Linked DNA regions of Homo sapiens. The protein of the gene in region 5 purifies or fractionates together with the protein of the main gene of each other region. This does not show direct contact. Each region holds a gene or a part of one and is shown on either strand. Other genes may lie near its edges.

Evidence for each region.
Region 1: the proteins of RBL2 (region 5) and FBXO11 purify together in Homo sapiens (co-immunoprecipitation; one large-scale study listed by IntAct). This does not show direct contact.
Region 2: the proteins of RBL2 (region 5) and CCNE2 purify together in Homo sapiens (co-immunoprecipitation; one large-scale study listed by IntAct). This does not show direct contact.
Region 3: the proteins of RBL2 (region 5) and TMLHE purify together in Homo sapiens (co-immunoprecipitation; one large-scale study listed by IntAct). This does not show direct contact.
Region 4: the proteins of RBL2 (region 5) and SERPINB2 purify together in Homo sapiens (affinity purification with western blotting; one study listed by BioGRID). This does not show direct contact.
Region 6: the proteins of RBL2 (region 5) and RBBP9 purify together in Homo sapiens (affinity purification with western blotting, with the first as the bait; one study listed by BioGRID). This does not show direct contact.

What each region holds. Positions count from the first base shown.
Region 1 is NC_000002.12:47,809,460-47,812,498, forward strand, and holds part of FBXO11 (F-box only protein 11), read right to left. Parts: intron 968-3,039; coding exon 857-967; intron 643-856; exon of another isoform or gene 540-642; intron 249-539; coding exon 141-248; intron 1-140. UniProt on the Homo sapiens protein: Substrate recognition component of a SCF (SKP1-CUL1-F-box protein) E3 ubiquitin-protein ligase complex which mediates the ubiquitination and subsequent proteasomal degradation of target proteins, such as DTL/CDT2, BCL6, SNAI1 and PRDM1/BLIMP1.
Region 2 is NC_000008.11:94,888,702-94,892,201, forward strand, and holds part of CCNE2 (G1/S-specific cyclin-E2), read right to left. Parts: intron 1,850-3,500; coding exon 1,714-1,849; intron 1-1,713. UniProt on the Homo sapiens protein: Essential for the control of the cell cycle at the late G1 and early S phase.
Region 3 is NC_000023.11:155,515,453-155,518,952, forward strand, and holds part of TMLHE (trimethyllysine dioxygenase, mitochondrial isoform 1 precursor), read right to left. Parts: intron 1-3,500. UniProt on the Homo sapiens protein: Converts trimethyllysine (TML) into hydroxytrimethyllysine (HTML).
Region 4 is NC_000018.10:63,901,047-63,904,388, forward strand, and holds the end of SERPINB2 (plasminogen activator inhibitor 2), read left to right. Parts: intron 1-693; coding exon 694-836; intron 837-1,357; coding exon 1,358-1,522; intron 1,523-1,854; coding exon 1,855-2,259; 3' UTR 2,260-2,842; downstream 2,843-3,342. UniProt on the Homo sapiens protein: Inhibits urokinase-type plasminogen activator. The monocyte derived PAI-2 is distinct from the endothelial cell-derived PAI-1.
Region 5 is NC_000016.10:53,468,971-53,472,470, reverse strand, and holds part of RBL2 (retinoblastoma-like protein 2), read right to left. Parts: intron 2,556-3,500; coding exon 2,286-2,555; intron 2,089-2,285; coding exon 1,808-2,088; intron 1,726-1,807; coding exon 1,549-1,725; intron 1-1,548. UniProt on the Homo sapiens protein: Key regulator of entry into cell division. Directly involved in heterochromatin formation by maintaining overall chromatin structure and, in particular, that of constitutive heterochromatin by stabilizing histone methylation.
Region 6 is NC_000020.11:18,490,726-18,494,225, forward strand, and holds part of RBBP9 (serine hydrolase RBBP9), read right to left. Parts: intron 3,339-3,500; coding exon 3,233-3,338; intron 1-3,232.

The DNA.
Region 1 (3,039 bases), on a different chromosome or scaffold from region 5:
AAAGCTCTGTTTCTTTCAAAATCTATCTTAAACTGTTGCTAACTTGGAGAGTGACATAAGGAATCAAGTTATAAAACGGCTTCTGATTATCTTTCATGGCATATTGCATATATTTATAGGTATAGCAGACTCCAACATACCTTTCATTGTCACATTAACACCAGATGCTAAAAATAAGCCTCCAAACCGGTTGTTAAAAATCTGATTGCCTTCTAGTGTTGCAGTTGCGTGATTTGTAATTTCAATACCTGAAGTAAAATTTACAAACAAGTAGATACATCACTTTATACTGCTTCTTAAAAACCTGAAATTAGCAAGCAAATGTAAACTGCTTCTTTTATAGAAGTACATTAACCCTCTTAATGTCTACTGAATAAAATGTAGATACCTATTTCAACCACCAACAGTAACATTCACTTATCAATGACTATGGTCAAAACTGCAATTAACTTTCGCACCAACCTAACTGTCTTAAAGTTTAAATACATGATACTTGGATTTCATTTGCATCCATTTTAACATCTCTTTTTCTGTTGCAGATTTAAACTGGTAAATTCATCTGAGGAATTGAATCTATCTGTATTCCTAGTGGTAATACAAGCCTGCATTTATTCTATCCCAATAAATGTTTCATAATCACGACTAAGCAATAAGAGCAATATTTCTTAGGAGTCTGGCTTAGAGTAGAAGAATCCAGAACTTGATTAGGTGCTCTTGTAAGTGAATGAACAGGCATTCAGCCACTTCAGCACACTTTGCACATTTTAGTTAATAAGCAAAACAAAATGAATATACTCCACATCAAACACTTTGCAGAACTATATATAAGCCACAGGTAAGAAAAGAAAATACAAACCTGCGGCAAATCCATCAAATATTCTGTTTTTCCTTAAGATTGGATGACTATTAGTGCTGATGAGAACACCTGCTTGAGCATTCCTGAAAATATCATTTTCTTCAAGGAGACCTATAATAAAATATTTCCTTAGATTAAGGCTAATGCATATAACAGACTACTAACCTTTTTGGTGGTATTTAGGTTTGCTTTTAGTTTCTTATTTAACTGCATGGTAAAATTCACAGGACTATTTTTTCAGCCAAAACAAGTTTATTAGCAATTCAGAGGTATTAAGGATCTAACAAAATTGCTACAATGACAGGTAAGAGCATTCTGACCAATAATCTGCCATCTCCATGATAGCAGGGTCCATGTCTAAGTTTACTCAGCACTTCATCTTCAGAGCCAGGTGCATAGGTGATTCTCAATGAGTATTGCTGAATTAAAGCTAATTCCTTTGAAATATTTCTAGAACCTTTGTATCCTCTTTGTTTTTAGTTCAGGCAAGCAAGCCCTTATTTCTGGCCCTTATTACTATAATCATTTCCTGATGAGTTTCCTTTATTCCAGTTTCATCTGCTGCATAGTTTCCAATCAGTTAACTGCAACTCTTATCATGCCTCTTTCTCTAACAAACTACTTTCAGAATAAAGTTTAATATCACCTTGCCTTTCAAAATATCCCTCCAACCTACTTGTTTGTCTTAATGTGAGACATGGTTTTATTTCTGTAGACATTTAATCCCTCTGGTATTTCACATTATTGACCTAAACTTTCACCTGGATGAGTGGGAAAAATCTGACTCAGTAACTTCTTGGGGTCCTCCTCCTGTTCACTCCCTGGGTATTAATATTTCTGGGTTCTGTCCCTCATTTCCCTCTGCATACTCTTTGGGTGATCTTACATCTTGCAACTATTGCATATACACTGTTGCTTTTTAATTTTTGAGACAGAGTCTCACTCTGCCACCCAGGCTGGAGTGCAATGGTGTGATCTTGGCTCACTGCAACCCCTGCCTCCGGGTTCAAGCAATTCTCCTGCTTCAGCCTCCCAAGCAGCTGGGATTACAAGCACCTGCCACCACACCTGGCTAATTTTTGTATTTTTAGGTTTCACCATGTTGGCCAGGCTGGTCTCAAACTCCTGACCTCAAATGATCCACCCACCTGGGCCTCCCCCAAAGTGCTGGGGTTACAGGCATGAGCCACTGCACCCGGCCACTGTTGCTAATTCTTTAATCTATTCCTTTAGCTTAGTATAATGAATCACATTCTGGTCATAACCAATTTGGATATTCCAGAAGACAACCTTGGATTCAGTGTTTAAAAACTGACCTTACTAATGTTTTCCAGAAACCATTTCCTATATAACTTACCTCAGTGAAAGGTAGTCACCCACCCAAATCAGAATCCTGAGCACCCATCATATTTCACTTTACTTTCAACCCCCATATTAAATCAATGACCCAGTCCTGTTGGTTCCACCCTTTTTATAGAGATACGGTCTTACTACATTGCCTAGGCTGGTTTCCAACTCCAGACTCAAGTGATACTCCTGCCTTAGCCTCCAGAGCAGCTGGAAGTACAGGTGTGAGCCACTGTGCCCAGTTGGTTCTGTCCTTTTAAGTATCATTAACATGTCCCACCCCCTGCCCCCCCAACCTTTTCACACCCTTATGCTATCATTTTAGTTTAGGCTCTCATTATTTATTGCCTGAGTTATTCCAAGTCCCTGTCTCTAATCTTGATTATTTCCACTACACCTCAAGTGCTATTGCTAAGATGGATTCCAAACTCCTTACTGCATATGGAAAACCTCATGATTTGGGCCTTGCCCCTTCTGTAGCCTCAATTTTCTGTACCTCTTCCCTTACTTTCAGTTTCCTCTAGACTTTTGTTTACGATGTGCTCCACTCCATCACACTATACATTTTATGGATGTGCTGTTTCATTTAGCATATCTCTAGCATCTGTATCATAGTAGTTGGTACAGAGGTGTTAAATCAGTATCTAAAGAATAAAAGTGAAATAACATCTGGAATGGTCTGTTCGCCTCTCCCAAACCCAATTGCCAGTAAATATCTACTCATTTTTCAAAACACGGCTCAAAAGTGATTTGACTTGCGTGAACCATTTCTCAACACCTTGCAAATAAACCATTCTGTATTGTGTGTCTTCACTATATTTTGTGAAAACTATCTG
Region 2 (3,500 bases), on a different chromosome or scaffold from region 5:
TTTTAGTAGAGATGGGATTTTGCCATGTTGGCCAGGCTGGTCTCAAACTCCTGGCTTCAACTGATCTGCCTGCCTCAGTCTCCCAAAGTGCTGGCATTACAGGTATGAGCCATCACACCTGGCCACATGAGTTTCTAATAATGAGTTAAGAAAATCTCTTTTGCTGGCCGAGTGCGGTGGCTCACATCTGTAATCCCAGCACTTTGGGAGGCCAAGGCGGGCGGATCACTTGAGGTCAGGAGTTCAAGACCAGCTTGGCCAATAGGGTGAAACCGCATCTCTATTAAAAATACAAAATATAGCAGGTGTGGTGGCCTGCGCCTGTAATCCCAGCTATGTGGGTGGCTGAGACAAGAGAGTCGCTTGAACGCGAGATGCAGAGGTTGCAGTGAGCTGAGATCGTGCCATTCCATTCTGGCCTGGGTGACAACAGCGAGGCTCCGTCTCAAAAAAAAAAAAAAGAATGTCGAATTTCAAAAAATGTCTTTTGCATCTATTGAGATCTTAGCATTTTTCTTATTTACTGTTAAGGTAATAAATTAATAGATTTTCAAATGTTGAATCAAGTTTGCATTCCTAGACTGAAGAATACACTAAGATAGAGTTTAACACTGCTGGATTTGATATATTCTGTATGCTGTTGCATACATAATCATATTTAGGTAAAAACAGGAACAAATTGAATTGGATAACCACTGGATGAATATCAGTATAACAAAAAGGAAACAAATTAAAAATTAACATAATTGTGCTTAAGTTGATTCCATGATCACTAGACAGTCAGAAAAAGTCAAAACCCAATGCCTTCTTGTGCCCACAATTAAAATACAATCTTTCCTTCTAGTCAGAATAAGGAAAAAGATGACCTGATGCAAAAGGATAACATTTTAGTCTTAAAAACTGTTCTGATAGCTTCTGAGATCTATTCTGCCATGTGTTCCTCCTCCAAAAAGTCTATGGTCTTTTTCCCTTAGAATGCTTCATCTCTTGTCTTAAAGACAGACTACAGAGCAAATATCCAAGAGTTGGAGGAAAAATCAGTTTGTCATCAACATAAGTAATGATTTCCTTAATAATAATTTTAGAAACTTTTTTAGAGCTATTATCCAGAGGAAAGGGAATGGACCTAAACAAGAGAGAAAAATCTGGCACAAATCTATAGGGGCTTCAGGATCACTATTCCTTTAAATTAATGGTATATTTCGGAAAAGAATAGAAGAATATAATAAAGAGAAGGTATCTGGACAATAGAGGGCGTAGAGCTTCCAGATATCCATAGTCTCATTATGGTTTAGGATATAGAAATCAGGATTCCTCATCATCATGATTTTGTTAATACAGAAAAAGACTTCAGAGGGCCCTGAAGCCTAGTTCTAGTTCTTCACTTTGTATAGCATAATTCAAAACCTAATCAACTATACATTCCATTCACCTTGAGTATCTGTGGCACCCAGAAAGTGGTTGGTACACAGCAGTATCCACAGGTAACAGGAATTCTGAATTGGGTTTAGTTATATGTAGTAGCTTTGTCATGGTTTTACTCTTATAGAGTCACTTTCCACTTTGGGTGCAATCAACTACAGTAAGTACCTCAAAAAAGACAGCTTCCTGGGGATGAACAATAAACTCTTGAGAGTACATAGAAAGCACATTTACAGCTAAATATGTTTCCATCATACAGAGACAAAGGAAATTTGTATTGCTGTAACATACCTCTAAAAGCCAGTCTAGAAGTATGGACCTCATCTGTGGTTCCAAGTCAGAATGCAGAACTTCAAAATGTTTGTCATGAACATATCTGCTCTCCTTTTTTAACATGTTTAGCCAGACTTCTTTTGAACATCCCCAGCTATGGAAAGAGAGGAAAAAAACCATATATATATATATATATTTTTTTTTTTTTTTTTTTGAGACAGAGTCTCGCTCTGTGGCCCAGGCTAGAGTGCAGCGGCACAATCTTGGCTCACTGTAATCTCCACCTCCTGGGTTCAAGCGATTCTTGTGCCTCAGCCTCCCAAGTAGCTGGGAGTTACAGGTGCCTGCCACCAAGCCTGGCTAGTTTTTGTATTTTTAGTAGAGATGGGGTTTCACCATGTTGGCTGGGCTAGTCTCGAACTCCTGGCCTCAAGTGATCGACCTGCCTCAGCCTCTCAAAGTGCTGGGATTACAGGCGTGACCCACCATGCCCGGCTAAAAAACATAATTTAAATTGTGCAATCCATGTAATATACAAACTCTGTTTCACATAGATAAAATTCAACTTTCAGACATTGAAATGCAACTTTTAATTAGAACTTGGAAGAAGCTCTTAAAGTAAATAAGAAAAAAAACTTCTGCCTTAATTTTTGGAAACAATTTCCTTTGCATGAATAAATAGAAGCCTGAAGTAACACAGTGGGAACCTGGACTATGATCATCCAAACCTGCAGATTTCAAGGGAGTGCTTTCTAGTTCCACTTATTTATACTTTACAAAGGTTGCTGTTAAAAGATAACCACGTTGCTTTTCCCATAAGTGGTCTGAAGTAATCTGTGAAAATAGCTGGCTATTCACTTTACCTGGAAAACCCCACAAAATCATGCAAATCAAGAGGTTCAAATCTTTGTGTTCACTGTAAGAACACTCGTGAAACTGCCCAGGCTATCAAGGGTATGCATATATGAAAAACCACAAAGTGGCCGGCACAGTGGCTCACACCTGTAATCCCTGCACTTTGGGAGGCCAAGGTGGGTGGATCACTTAAGGTCAGGAGTTCGAGACCAGCCTGGCCAACATGGTGAAACCCCGTCTCCACTAAAAATACAAAAAATTAGCTGGGCGTGGTGGCATGCTTGTAATCCCAGCTACTCAGGAGGCTGAGGCAGGAGAATCACTTGCACCCAGGAGGTGGAGGTTGCAGTGAGCCGAGATCGTGCCACTGCACTCCAGCCTGGGCAACAACAGCAAACCTCTGTCTCCAAAAAAAAAAAAAAAAAAAAACACCATGAAGTATTTTTAAAATGTCACTTTACAGAAACAGCATGTGCCATTCTGACATTACAATGGTGGAGTTGGTAGGTGTACCCAGGCCAAGCAGTGGGACTGGACACAAGGTTGGTGGCCCAAAAAGAGTGCTGAATTTTTGCTGCACATGCTTAAAAATGCAGAGAGTAATGCTGAACTTAAGAGTTTAGATGTAGATTCTCTGGTCATTGAGCATCTCCAAGTGAACAAAGCACCTACGATGTGCCAACGGACCTACAGAGCTCATGGTCGGATTAACTCACACGTGATCTCTCCCTGCCACATCGAAATGATCTTTAGTGAAAAGGAACAAATTGTTCCTAAACCAGAAGAGGCGGTTGCCCAGAAGAAAAAGATATCCCAGAAGAAACTGAAGAAACAAAAACTTATGGCACAGGAGTAAATTCAGCACTAAAATAAATGCAATTAAAAGTGAAAAAAAATGTTTTCTCAAGAGCAATACAAAAAAGTTAAACACATAAGGCATGTGATCACAG
Region 3 (3,500 bases), on a different chromosome or scaffold from region 5:
TATAATTTAGAAATAGAATGTATATTACATTTCTTAAAAGTTCGTATCTTTGTATTTAGAAATTTCAAAGATATAAACTTTTAAGAGTTCTGATATACATAATCAAATTACTTTTTAGAAAGTCTACTTATCTTCATTCCCTCCAACAGTACATATGTGTCCATCAAAATGGAGTATTCTTATTTTTAAAATATATTTTTTTCTAATTTGGTAACTAAAGTGGAACTGCTATCTTGTAATAATTTTAACTTATTTGCTTACTAAGGCTAATAAGAATACTTTCTATATTTGTTAGACATCTATGTTTCTTTAATGCAGGGACTACCAAACTATGGTTGATGAGTCAAATCTGGTGCTTGGTTTTGTAATGCCTGTTTCAGAACACATGCTGTCCATGTTGTTACATATTGTCTATAGCTCCATTCACTCATATAGCCCACAAAGTTTGAAAATATTTACCATCTGGCTCTTTATAGAAAATGTTTGCTGACTCCTGCTTTAATGATTTGTCTGTTCAGTCCTTTCTCACATTTTTCTATTGGAACAATTGTACTTTTCTTCTTTTTTTTTTTTTTTTATTATACTCTAAGTTTTAGGGTACATGTGCACATTGTGCAGGTTAGTTACCTATGTATACATGTGCCATGCTGGTGCGCTGCACCCACTAATGTGTCATCTAGCATTAGGTATATCTCCCAATGCTATCCCTCCCCCCTCCCCCGACCCCACCACAGTCCCCAGAGTGTGATATTCCCCTTCCTGTGTCCATGTGATCTCATTGTTCAATTCCCACCTATGAGTGAGAATATGCGGTGTTTGGTTTTTTGTTCTTGCGATAGTTTACTGAGAATGATGGTTTCCAATTTCATCCATGTCCCTACAAAGGATATGAACTCATCATTTTTTATGGCTGCATAGTATTCCATGGTGTATATGTGCCACATTTTCTTAATCCAGTCTATCATTGTTGGACATTTGGGTTGGTTCCAAGTCTTTGCTATTGTGAATAGTGCCGCAATAAACATACGTGTGCATGTGTCTTTATAGCAGCATGATTTATAGCCCTTTGGGTATATACCCAGTAATGGGATGGCTGGGTCAAATGGTATTTCTAGTTCTAGATCCCTGAGGAATCGCCACACTGACTTCCACAATGGTTGAACTAGTTTACAGTCCCACCAACAGTGTAAAAGTGTTCCTATTTCTCCACATCCTCTCCAGCACCTGTTGTTTCCTGACTTTTTAATGATTGCCATTCTAACTGGTGTGAGATGATATCTCATAGTGGTTTTGATTTGCATTTCTCTGATGGCCAGTGATGATGAGCATTTCTTCATGTGTTTTTTGGCTGCATAAATGTCTTCTTTTGAGAAGTGTCTGTTCATGTCCTTTGCCCACTTTTTGATGGGGTTGTTTGTTTTTTTCTTGTAAATTTGTTGGAGTTCATTGTAGATTCTGGATATTAGCCCTTTGTCAGATGAGTAGGTTGCGAAAATTTTCTCCCATGTTGTAGGTTGCCTGTTCACTCTGATGGTAGTTTCTTTTGCTGTGCAGAAGCTCTTTAGTTGAATTAGATCCCATTTGTCAATTTTGGCTTTGGTTGCCATTGCTTTTGGTGTTTTGGACATGAAGTCCTTGCCCATGCCTATGTCCTGAATGGTAATGCCTAGGTTTTCTTCTAGGGTTTTTATGGTTTTAGGTCTAACATTTAAATCTTTAATCCATCTTGAATTGATTTTTGTATAAGGTGTAAGGAAGGGATCCAGTTTCAGCTTTCTACATATGGCTAGCCAGTTTTCCCAGCACCATTTATTAAATAGGGAATCCTTTCCCCATTGCTTGTTTTTCTCAGGTTTGTCAAAGATCAGATAGTTGTAGATATGCGGCATTATTTCTGAGGGCTCTGTTCTGTTCCATTGATCTATATCTCTGTTTTGGTACCAGTACCATGCTGTTTTGGTTACTGTAGCCTTGTAGTATAGTTTGAAGTCAGGTAGTGTGATGCCTCCAGCTTTGTTCTTTTGGCTTAGGATTGACTTGGCAATGCGGGCTCTTTTTTGGTTCCATATGAACTTTAAAGTAGTTTTTTCCAATTCTGTGAAGAAAGTCATTGGTAGCTTGATGGGGATGGCATTGAATCTGTAAATTACCTTGGGCAGTATGGCCATTTTCACGATATTGATTCTTCCTACCCATGAGCATGGAATGTTCTTCCATTTGTTTGTGTCCTCTTTTATTTCCTTGAGCGGTGGTTTGTAGTTCTCCTTGAAGAGGTCCTTCACATCCCTTGTAAGTTGGATTCCTAGGTATTTTATTCTCTTTGAAGCAATTGTGAATGGGAGTTCACCCATGATTTGGCTCTCTGTTTGTCTGTTGTTGGTGTATAAGAATGCTTGTGATTTTTGTACATTGATTTTGTATCCTGAGACTTTGCTGAAGTTGCTTATCAGCTTAAGGAGATTTTGGGCTGAGACGATGGGGTTTTCTAGATAAACAATCATGTCGTCTGCAAACAGGGACAATTTGACTTCCTCTTTTCCTAATTGAATACCCTTTATTTCCTTCTCCTGCCTGATTGCCCTGGCCAGAACTTCCAACACTATGTTGAATAGGAGCGGTGAGAGAGGGCATCCCTGTCTTGTGCCAGTTTTCAAAGGGAATGCTTCCAGTTTTTGCCCATTCAGTATGATATTGGCTGTGGGTTTGTCATAGATAGCTCTTATTATTTTGAAATACGTCCCATCAATACCTAATTTATTGAGAGTTTTTAGCATGAAGGGTTGTTGAATTTTGTCAAAGGCTTTTTCTGCATCTATTGAGATAATCATGTGGTTTTTGTCTTTGGCTCTGTTTATATGCTGGATTACATTTATTGATTTGTGTATATTGAACCAGCCTTGCATCCCAGGGATGAAGCCCACTTGCTCATGGTGGAAAAGCTTTTTGATGTGCTGCTGGATTCGGTTTGCCAGTATTTTATTGAGGATTTTTGCATCAATGTTCATCAAGGATATTGGTCTAAAATTCTCTTTTTTGGTTGTGTCTCTGCCCGGCTTTGGTATCAGGATGATGCTGGCTTCATAAAATGAGTTAGGGAGGACTCCCTCTTTTTCTATTGATTGGAATAGTTTCAGAAGGAATGGTACCAGTTCCTCCTTGTACCTCTGGTAGAATTCTGCTGTGAATCCATCTGGTCCTGGACTCTTTTCGGTTGGTAAGCTATTGATTATTGCCACAATTTCAGAGCCTGTTATTGGTCTATTCAGAGATTCAACTTCTTCCTGGTTTAGTCTTGGGAGAGTGTATGTGTCGAGGAATGTATCCATTTCTTCTAGATTTTCTAGTTTATTTGCGTAGAGGTGTTTGTAGTATTCTCTGATGGTAGTTTGTATTTCTGTGGGATTGGTGGTGATATCCCCTTTATCATTTTTTATTGTGTCTATTTGATTCTTCTCTCTTTTTTTCTTTATTAGTCTTGCTAGCGGTCTATCAATTTTGTT
Region 4 (3,342 bases), on a different chromosome or scaffold from region 5:
AACCAATTTCATTTTTTTAAATGACCACACTCATTTGTCATTGTTTCTGTCAATCTTCTCGGGCTTACTCCTTCACTCCCTTCTCTGTATGATCATAGTACTCAATATATTATTTAGCTCAATTACAGAAGTTATCACACAGGGTTTCACAACTGATTTTGAATGTCTCCCCCAGTGTTCTAGGCTCATCCAGGATAATTCTTCCTTTCTCATCTCTTGTATCTGCACTACTCTTAATTTAGGTCTAGTATATTTTTTACAAAACGTTTTTGAATAAATGAGTAAGTCAGATCCTCAGACTATCTAGACCAGATCTAGCAGTACATGATATATTTTGGAAAGGCACTATTATATTCCCTAAGAACCTCTCTTTCACTTCCCTCTGATTTGAATAACTTTCAACTGCCAAGCTTTGAGAAAAGAATATAAAAGGGAGTGAAAATCTCCATTCCAAACTTGATAGGCGGTCTAAATTTTAAATGCATTATTTCTTCATTTTTTCTTGGATTTTGCAAGCTTTTGGGAAATTTGTTTCAATTTTAATTTTGCTTTAAATAAACCTAAAAAACTTTAGCTTGAAGATTAACAACTCTGCAATTTGAAGAATTTAGTTTGATGGCTACTCAGAAGATTCAGTAAGTAATTTCACAGTTCTTGATTATGAAACCTAAATATATGTTATGTTTTCTGTAGGCAAAATCCCAAACTTGTTACCTGAAGGTTCTGTAGATGGGGATACCAGGATGGTCCTGGTGAATGCTGTCTACTTCAAAGGAAAGTGGAAAACTCCATTTGAGAAGAAACTAAATGGGCTTTATCCTTTCCGTGTAAACTCGGTATGAGACAACAAAATACATCTTCCTAGCATATATTTTAGGGCTTTTGACAAGATATAGACAGAAAAATTAGAGACCGCTCATTATAGACTTGCTAGTTAGAAGTTATGCATGTTGGACAGTTGATTGACTCTTTAGAAACAGTATAGGTAAAGGGGAAGACTGTGGCTTTTTAATTATACATGCCCAGACTCCAACGTTGGCTCTACCACTTATTTCAAAGGGCTGTAAATATTGAGACATGGCACGGTTCCTGGCCCATAGTAAGAACTAAACAAGTGTTTTAGAATTATGGTTGTCATTACCATTGTTGTCCATCTTACTAAATAATGGGTATAAAGTTGAACAAGCTAATAACATCAGAGTACCCACTGTAAGGATGTACAAATAATTTATTTTGTTGATTTAAAAAAATCACATTTATCCTACACTAAAGTAGAACCAATCCTCCTTTATGTCTAATTGTAAATCTCTTGATATCTTATAATCGACTTCCATATTTTACCTTTTAATAATATTAGGCTCAGCGCACACCTGTACAGATGATGTACTTGCGTGAAAAGCTAAACATTGGATACATAGAAGACCTAAAGGCTCAGATTCTAGAACTCCCATATGCTGGAGATGTTAGCATGTTCTTGTTGCTTCCAGATGAAATTGCCGATGTGTCCACTGGCTTGGAGCTGGTAAGACATTCAGATATTTAAGTTTCTGGGGCTATACCTACCTTTCGTGAGATGAGATGAATATATACTCCTTACAAATGGTGTGGTAATTTCTCATGGAAATATATGAAACAGTTGATAGTAAATATGGCATGCCTCTACATTTCATTCAAAGCCTTAACTATGTCATACGTGTTACCTTCTTGTAAAAATCTGACCAATCTGTTAACTTTCTATATCACCCACAATATAGTAAAGTCACTGATTTTTAATATTAGACTTAAAGTTGTTTTCCTTCTTTCTAATACTTGCTGTATTTTCTTTTGTTTGTTTTGTTTTGTTTTGCTTTGCAGCTGGAAAGTGAAATAACCTATGACAAACTCAACAAGTGGACCAGCAAAGACAAAATGGCTGAAGATGAAGTTGAGGTATACATACCCCAGTTCAAATTAGAAGAGCATTATGAACTCAGATCCATTCTGAGAAGCATGGGCATGGAGGACGCCTTCAACAAGGGACGGGCCAATTTCTCAGGGATGTCGGAGAGGAATGACCTGTTTCTTTCTGAAGTGTTCCACCAAGCCATGGTGGATGTGAATGAGGAGGGCACTGAAGCAGCCGCTGGCACAGGAGGTGTTATGACAGGGAGAACTGGACATGGAGGCCCACAGTTTGTGGCAGATCATCCTTTTCTTTTTCTTATTATGCATAAGATAACCAACTGCATTTTATTTTTCGGCAGATTTTCCTCACCCTAAAACTAAGCGTGCTGCTTCTGCAAAAGATTTTTGTAGATGAGCTGTGTGCCTCAGAATTGCTATTTCAAATTGCCAAAAATTTAGAGATGTTTTCTACATATTTCTGCTCTTCTGAACAACTTCTGCTACCCACTAAATAAAAACACAGAAATAATTAGACAATTGTCTATTATAACATGACAACCCTATTAATCATTTGGTCTTCTAAAATGGGATCATGCCCATTTAGATTTTCCTTACTATCAGTTTATTTTTATAACATTAACTTTTACTTTGTTATTTATTATTTTATATAATGGTGAGTTTTTAAATTATTGCTCACTGCCTATTTAATGTAGCTAATAAAGTTATAGAAGCAGATGATCTGTTAATTTCCTATCTAATAAATGCCTTTAATTGTTCTCATAATGAAGAATAAGTAGGTATCCCTCCATGCCCTTCTGTAATAAATATCTGGAAAAAACATTAAACAATAGGCAAATATATGTTATGTGCATTTCTAGAAATACATAACACATATATATGTCTGTATCTTATATTCAATTGCAAGTATATAATAAATAAACCTGCTTCCAAACAACAATACATTTGTTGTCATTTCATTAGGTCTGCAGATCATAGACCTTGACTCCTAGGAGTTGAGCATTATGACTCACTTGTGAGAACTCAGAAAAAATAGACAGGATGAAGGAGCCAAGGACATAACAACCTTCATTCAAAAAGACCCAATGTTGAGGGTCAGTGGGATGGGGTTGTATGAAAAATGGGTTAGAGCTGCTTTCTCACAGCAGCAAAGACATAGCAATTCAGAATAGTCTAGGTTAGAGTCCTTTGGGGAAACCACTGTCTAAACATTAAGGACACCAGGATTAATGACCAAGTCCAGTGGTCCAGACACAGAAGAAGGCCTCAGTCATTGAGCTCAGAGTTGCAAGCAGTGAAGATGGGAGATGGGTTGGGTGCAAGAGCAGGAGGGGAAACATAAGATGGCTCTTTCTAAGTGTGTTTGTTTCTAATAGCAGTAATGCTTTTGAATGAGTCAGAGGCAGAGGAGAACATAATTGAAGACCTGAGAAATAAGGC
Region 5 (3,500 bases):
ATGATATATCACCCAATACCCGCTAAGATGGCTATAATAAAAATAATAAGTTGGCAAGGATGTGGAGAAACTGGAACTCTTGTGCATTACTGGTAGCAATGTCAAATGGTGCAGCTTCTGTGGAAAATGGTACGGTGGTTCTTCAAAAAAGTTAAACATAGTATCACCATATGACCCTGCAGTTCCACTCCTAGGAATAAACTCAAAAGGACTGAAAATGGGCACTCAAACAGGTACATGATATACCTGTTCACAACAGTGCTATTCACTATAGCCAACAGTTGGAAACAGCCCAAATATCCATCAGTGTATGAGTGGAGAAAAAAATTGTGCCTATCCATACAATGGAATATCATTCAGTCATAAAAAGGAATGAAGTACTGATACATGCTGCAACATGGGTAAACCTGGAAAATATTATCCTAAGTAAAAGGAGCCATACACAAGAGGTCACATATTGTACCATTTCTATAAACGATTAAGAACAGATAAATCCATACAGCCAGAATGCCAACTGCTGGTTGCCAGGTGCTGTGGGAGGTAGAATGGGGAGAAACTACTTAATAGGAAAGGAGTTTTACTTTGCAGGTACGGAAATGTTCTGGAACTAGACAGAGGTGGTGAGTATACAACCATTTATTACACTTAGTACTGTAAATGTGCTAAATGCTCCTAAATTGTTCAACTTAAAATAGTTAATTTGGCTGGGCCCAGTGGCTCATGCCTGTAATCCCAGCACTTTGGGAGGCCGAGGTGGGCAGATCACCTGAGGTCAGGAGTTTGAGACCTGCCTGGCCAACATGGTCAAACCCCATCTCTACTAAAAATGCAAAAATTAGCCAGGCATGGTGGCACATGGCTGTAATCCCAGCTACTCGGGAGGCTACGACAGGAGAATCGCTTGAACCTGGGAGGCAGAGGTTGCAGTGAGCTGAGATGCACCACTGCACTCCAGCCTGGGTGACAAGAATGAAACAACATCTCAAAAAAAAAAAGAAAAACCCAATTAATTTTATGTTATGTGAATTTCTCCTCAATAAGTTATTTAAACAAAGTAAGATAGTAAGTGTTAATGAGATAGTGGAGAAACTAAAATCTTTATTATACTGCTGTGTAAGTGTAAAATGGTACAGTACTTTGGAAAACAATCTAGCAATTCCCTAAATAGTTAAAACACAGTTAATGTATGACCCAGCAGCCCATTCCTAGGTATATACCCTAGAGAAATGAAAATACATGTCTATACAAAAACCCAAACACAAATGCTAATAGTGGTATTATGCATATATGCCAAAAGTAGAAACAACTAAAATATACATTAGCTAATAAATGGATAAAAATACTCTCATATAACTATACAATGGAATATTATGTTCTAAAATTGTGGTGAGTATTGCACATATCTGTGAATATACTAAGACCCATTTAGTTGTGCATTTTAAATAGGTGAATTATAGAGCATGTAAACTGTATCTCAAGACAGTGGTTAAAAAATGTTCTCAGTAATGAAGACCTATCTTTGCCTTTACAATTCCAAATGGTACTCACCTTTGCCATCACATAAATGGCACACATTAATAACTGGTCCAGATGTCTGTCCATCATAAGTTCAGGACACTGAATTATGGAGAATTCAAAGCAGGTCCAGATTTTTTTCCTCAATTCATCTGAAATATCTAGTTTGGCACAGAGATCCCGAAGGCGGACAGCTGCTAAATGGTATACCTAGGAGATAAAAACATTTCAAACTTTGTTTAACACTTGTATTTCCCAAGCTCATGCTCTGATAAGGTATGTGAAAAATTACCTTTCTAAAGAAAAGCGATAAAGAGCTGGTCTTCCTGGGTCTATTACTACTGCTGGTTACAGACTGGCCTTGCTTCTGCTGTTGGCCACCTGGGGAAATCTGTTGAATGGCCACTTGACCAGGGACTTGCAAAGTTGTTCCTGTCACCTGTTGAGAGCTCAGACTTCCAGCCAGGGCCTGAGCACTGAGGGGCTGGATGGAGCCTGTCACAGCTTGTGCCTGCCCCCCAACATTGACTTGGACAGGGAAGAATGTTATCCCTCCATTTTCATTGGCAATACCTAGTGACAGAGAAAAAAAGCATGAAGAAAATGTTGATAATAAGAGGTTCTCCGGGCAGAGGTTTACAATTTCTGCTCTCCCAAACCCTCTCTCCCCATCACTCCTCTGTCCCCTATGTCACTCTAGCCAAACCTCGGGTAACTTTTCAATACATGCCACAGAGAAGGAACTCAATATCCAACTCTGCCTTCCTTACCTTGCACAGGAATGGTTACCGTTTGCCCATTGTTGGCTGTGACAGTGGCGGTTGCCATGGTGACCAAAGTCTGTCCAGGAACTGGTGTGACAGAAACAGTCTCCCCAGATACATTCTGCACAGGGACAGCATTGACTAGGGGCTGTGGGGGCATGCGCCCAGGCGTCCCTCCATCAGAGGGGCTATCATTCTCAACAAATAGCCGCCTTCTGGTAGTGCTGGCTGGTGGGGAGCTGTACCTATCGTATAATGTGGTTGGAGATGTTATGCCTAGGGTCAAAACAAATCAAACAAAGCATTTAACTCAAGGAGACTCAGATCTGACTTCCGTCCAAGCTCTTATGTTAAAAAATAACTACAGTGTTTGAAATACTTCATAATTCAAAAAGCAAACAAGAATTACAGAAGTCATATCTTACCTATATTCATTAGTGAACTTTCATTCGTGTTCAGTGAACACTACTGAGAGCAAAATTTTAAAACGGAATTTTTTGTCTTGCAGTGTTCCTTTCTCCACGCCCCCTTTCCCAAATCAGACCTGACTCTGTCTTCCACTACTAAAGAACCTTCATGATTTAGGGGCAATTTAAGGAATTACCCTATTTTTCTATATTATATTTTTCTATAATATTTTCTATCATATCCACTTTCTACCTACCACTCATGTAAGATGTGATTTTACTACAGAGCCACTACTTGATAAGGGGACCTGATTGGTAGTATGTCATCTAGGAGCATTCCGCCACCGGTTTTATCAATTTTGATCTCTGTCTTTTTCCACATATAAAAAATTATTAAAACTCAATAATGTTCTTAAGCAAGGTGGACATGCATGATTTGGATTCAGTTAAGCATAATTTATTTTTTTAAAACAGTTTATATACCATAAATTTCATCTACTTAAATTATACAATTCAATGGTTTGGGGCAAATTGTTACTATTTTTTTTATTTTTTGAGACAGAGTCTTACTCTATCACCCAGGCTGGAGTGCAGTAGCCTGATCTCGGCTCACTACAACCTCTGCCTCCTGGGTTTAAGTGATTCTTGTGCCTCAGCCTCCCAAGTAACTGGGATTAGAGGCATATGCCACAAGGCATGGCTAATTTTTGTATTTTTAGTAGAGATGAGGTCTCACCATGTTGGCCAGGCTGGTCTCGAACTCCTGACCTCAGGTGATCCACCCGCCTTGGCCTCCCAAAATGCTGGTATTACA
Region 6 (3,500 bases), on a different chromosome or scaffold from region 5:
CTGGAGTGCAGTGGCACAATCTTGGCTCACTGCAACCTCCACCTCCTGGGTTCAAACAATTCTCCTGTTTTAGCCTCCTGAGTAGCTGGGATAACAGGCATGCACCACCACGCCCAGCTAATTTTGTATTTTTAGTAGAGACGGGGTTTCACCATGTTGGCCAGGCTGGTCTTGAACTCCTGACCTCAAATAATCCACTCACCCCGGCCTCCTAAAGTGCTGGGATTACAGGCGTGAGCCACCACGCCCAGCCACTACCCATTTTTCAAGGTAGTTGAAACTTGTACAAACCTTTCCCAATAAACAAAAAATGTGTAATCCATCCACGTTTAGTATGCATCAGTGTCACTTGGTTGGTGAACATGCAGATTCTCAGGCTCAGACCCAGAGTCTCTGATTCAGAAAGTTGGCATTAAGGCCTAGAATCTGCATTTTAAGGCGTGATCCCTCCTTCAACCCAGATGACTCTAATGCAAGTGGTCTGTGAACTGTATTTTAAGAAACACTGTATAATACCAGAAATGTACCTTTGTTACCACACACTCCACATTGCCTTATATTATTCATTTGTGTTGTCTTATGTACATTTCTCTCAATAAATTGTCAGCTCCTTAAAGGCAGGCATGAGTCCTATTGATCTTTGTGTTCCTGGTGCCCATTACAGTGCCTGGCAAGTAGACACCCAGCTAACTCTTAGGTTGGTACAAAAGTAATTGCAGTTTTTGCCATTAAAAGTAAGCAGGAGACAGACAAGAAATAAACAGGATGTCAGATGCAATGCATAATCCTTGACTAGATCTAGGATTGACTAGATCTAGGTGAAAAGTACTACAGATAATAAGATATAAAGAGGATAGGAGCCAGTAGAGTGAGTCTCCTTTATTGGCAAAAACCACAGTTATATTTGCAGAGAGCAGTCTCCCTCAGCAAAGACTGGGATAAGGAAAGACACATAGTAGTAATAATTTCAAGGGGCCTTTGTGCCAAGAAAGAGTTAGGGTTGGTATTTTGTTCTTGGGCCTGAACTTTTTTCCCCATTTATTTTGAAAAATATCAAACCTACAGAAACGTTGAAAGAACAAGCACCTAGGCCGGGCACGGTGGCTCACACCTGTAATCCCAGCACTTTGTGAGGCCAAGGCAGGCAGATCACCTGAGGTCAGGAGTTCAAGACCAGCCTGACCAATATGGTGAAGCCCCGTCTCTACTAAAAATACAAAAATTAGCCAGGTGTGGTGGCAGGCGCCTGTAGTCTCAGCTACTCGGGAGGCTAAGACAGGAGAATTGCTTGAACCTGGGAGGCAGAGGTTGCAGTGAGCCGATATTGTGCCACTGCACTCCAGCCCGGGCAACAGAGGGAGGCTCTGTCTCAAAAAAAAAAAAAAAAAAAAAAAGAACAAGCACCTAGATTCATTAATTTTGTCACATTTCACCCGTACTTTAGCATGTATCTCCTGAGAAAGCCACTCCCTTAACCATGGTACCACTATTACACCCAATAAATTTCACATTGATACAGCAATATTATCTGTATTCATTTTTCCCCAACTGTACCAAAAATGTCCTTTAAAACATTCTGCAATCCTAGATCTAGTCAAGGATTATGCATTGCATTTTATTTTCATGGCTCTTCAGTCACTTTAAAATTTTTTTGTTTTAAATGACATTAACATTGTTTAAGAGTGTAGGCCAGTTGTCTTGTACATTATCCTCTAAATAGGATTGTCTGTTTCCTCCTAACTAGACTGAGGTAAACATTTCTGGCAAGGATACTGCATAGGTGATGCTGTGTCCTTCCCATGCCATTACATCAGGGGACACATGATGCCAGTCTATTATTGGTGAGATTAAGTTTGATCATTTGCTTAAAGTGATATCCACCTGATTTCTCCATTGGAAAGGCACGATTTCCCTTTCATGATTAGAGTCATCTGTAGGGTAGTCCTCTATGATTTTGTCAATAGGAAATTCTACAACCTTAACCCAATCGTTTTGGCATCCATTTTTCTCCTTGCCTCCCTTAACTTTAGAAGTCAATTCTTAGAAGGTTGCTAAGAATCCTGCAGTGAGTTCAAGGATCTTTAAAAGCAGGCACACCTTTACTAATCAATGGCTTGAGAAAAATGCAGTTGGCCTTGAGTTGGAACAGAATTCAATAATACAAGGAGCTCTTCCTTTTCCAGACAACCCCTGGCAGCATATAACATTCTTACACTGGGAGTGTACCATAATTTTGTGGTTCCATCCTGAAATACTCTTGTAACTTTAATCAGTGTGGCTGAAAGGTTATGAAATTTGGCAAGATTCCCTGACATGCAATTCATGTGACAGCCTAAGTGACTGCTTGGGACAAATAAAAACTATTATCCTTTGTCATTTTGCCTAGCAAATATGAAAGAAACTCAACCCTTATAGGCTAAACTTAGCTTATTCAGCCAGCTAAGTCCCTACCCACTAGGCCTTATAAGGCTAAAAGGGGAGATGTAATATTCTAATGAGAGCAGTAGGGATGTGCATACGAATCCTAAGGACTGGGGATTCGCAGGTGAGTAACACTGCAGACACAATCTACCATATGCCAGGCTCTCTTCTAGGCAATGGGGTTTCAGTGCCAGAGTGAACAAAGCCCTGCCTTCATGGAGTCTACATTCTATTGGCAGGAGACAGACAAGAAATAAACAGGATGTCAGATGGTAAAAAGTGCTGCAGATAATAAGATATAAAAGAGATAGGAGCCAGTAGAGTGAGGAAGCCATTTCATATGGAGTGATTAGAGAAGGCTTCACCAAAAGGGGACATTTGAGCAGACACTTCAAGGGGAATAGAAAGCCATGCAGTGTCTAGGGCCAGAGTATCCCAGGTAGAAGGATGAGAGCAGGCTAAGATGTGCATGTACTTGGCATGTTCCAGGAACTGCAATGAGGTCAGTAAACCTGGCTGGGAGGAGAGAAGGAGAGTCTGTAGAGACAGAATCAGAGCTGACTGATGGGAAGCTACTGGGGTTTGCAGCCACTTATGCTTTAAAAGGATCACTGCATCTCAATAAGAGCAGATTTTTTGTTTTCTTTCAATCCACTAGCAAAACCAGGAAGGAATTAGGACAGATTATGTTACCACTTTAGAGGTCAGCACTGTTTCCTCTGCAACAGAAATTTAAGATATACGCAAGGTATTTCTCAAGCAAGCATGACTGGAGCCCACAAAGGGGATAGCAGTTTAACAAAGATCGCACCTCATGGCCGCGATGGCCCCAGAACTGTGGCCAATGATGATAGTCTTCTCATCACAGTGCAGCTCTGTCTCCATGAAGGGCAGCCAGATGCTCTCTCGTGCTGTAACTTAAGGTTCAGGGTAAAGAAAAAGTCTGTCATTTGATAGTGGCAGTCTGAATCCAACGCTGCCCCACCTTTCAAACAGGCAACTATTCAGCAGTTCACAACTTTTAAAACTGCAGGACCACAGCAGGAGACCAGACTGTATTAACAAAACCAAAGATTTAT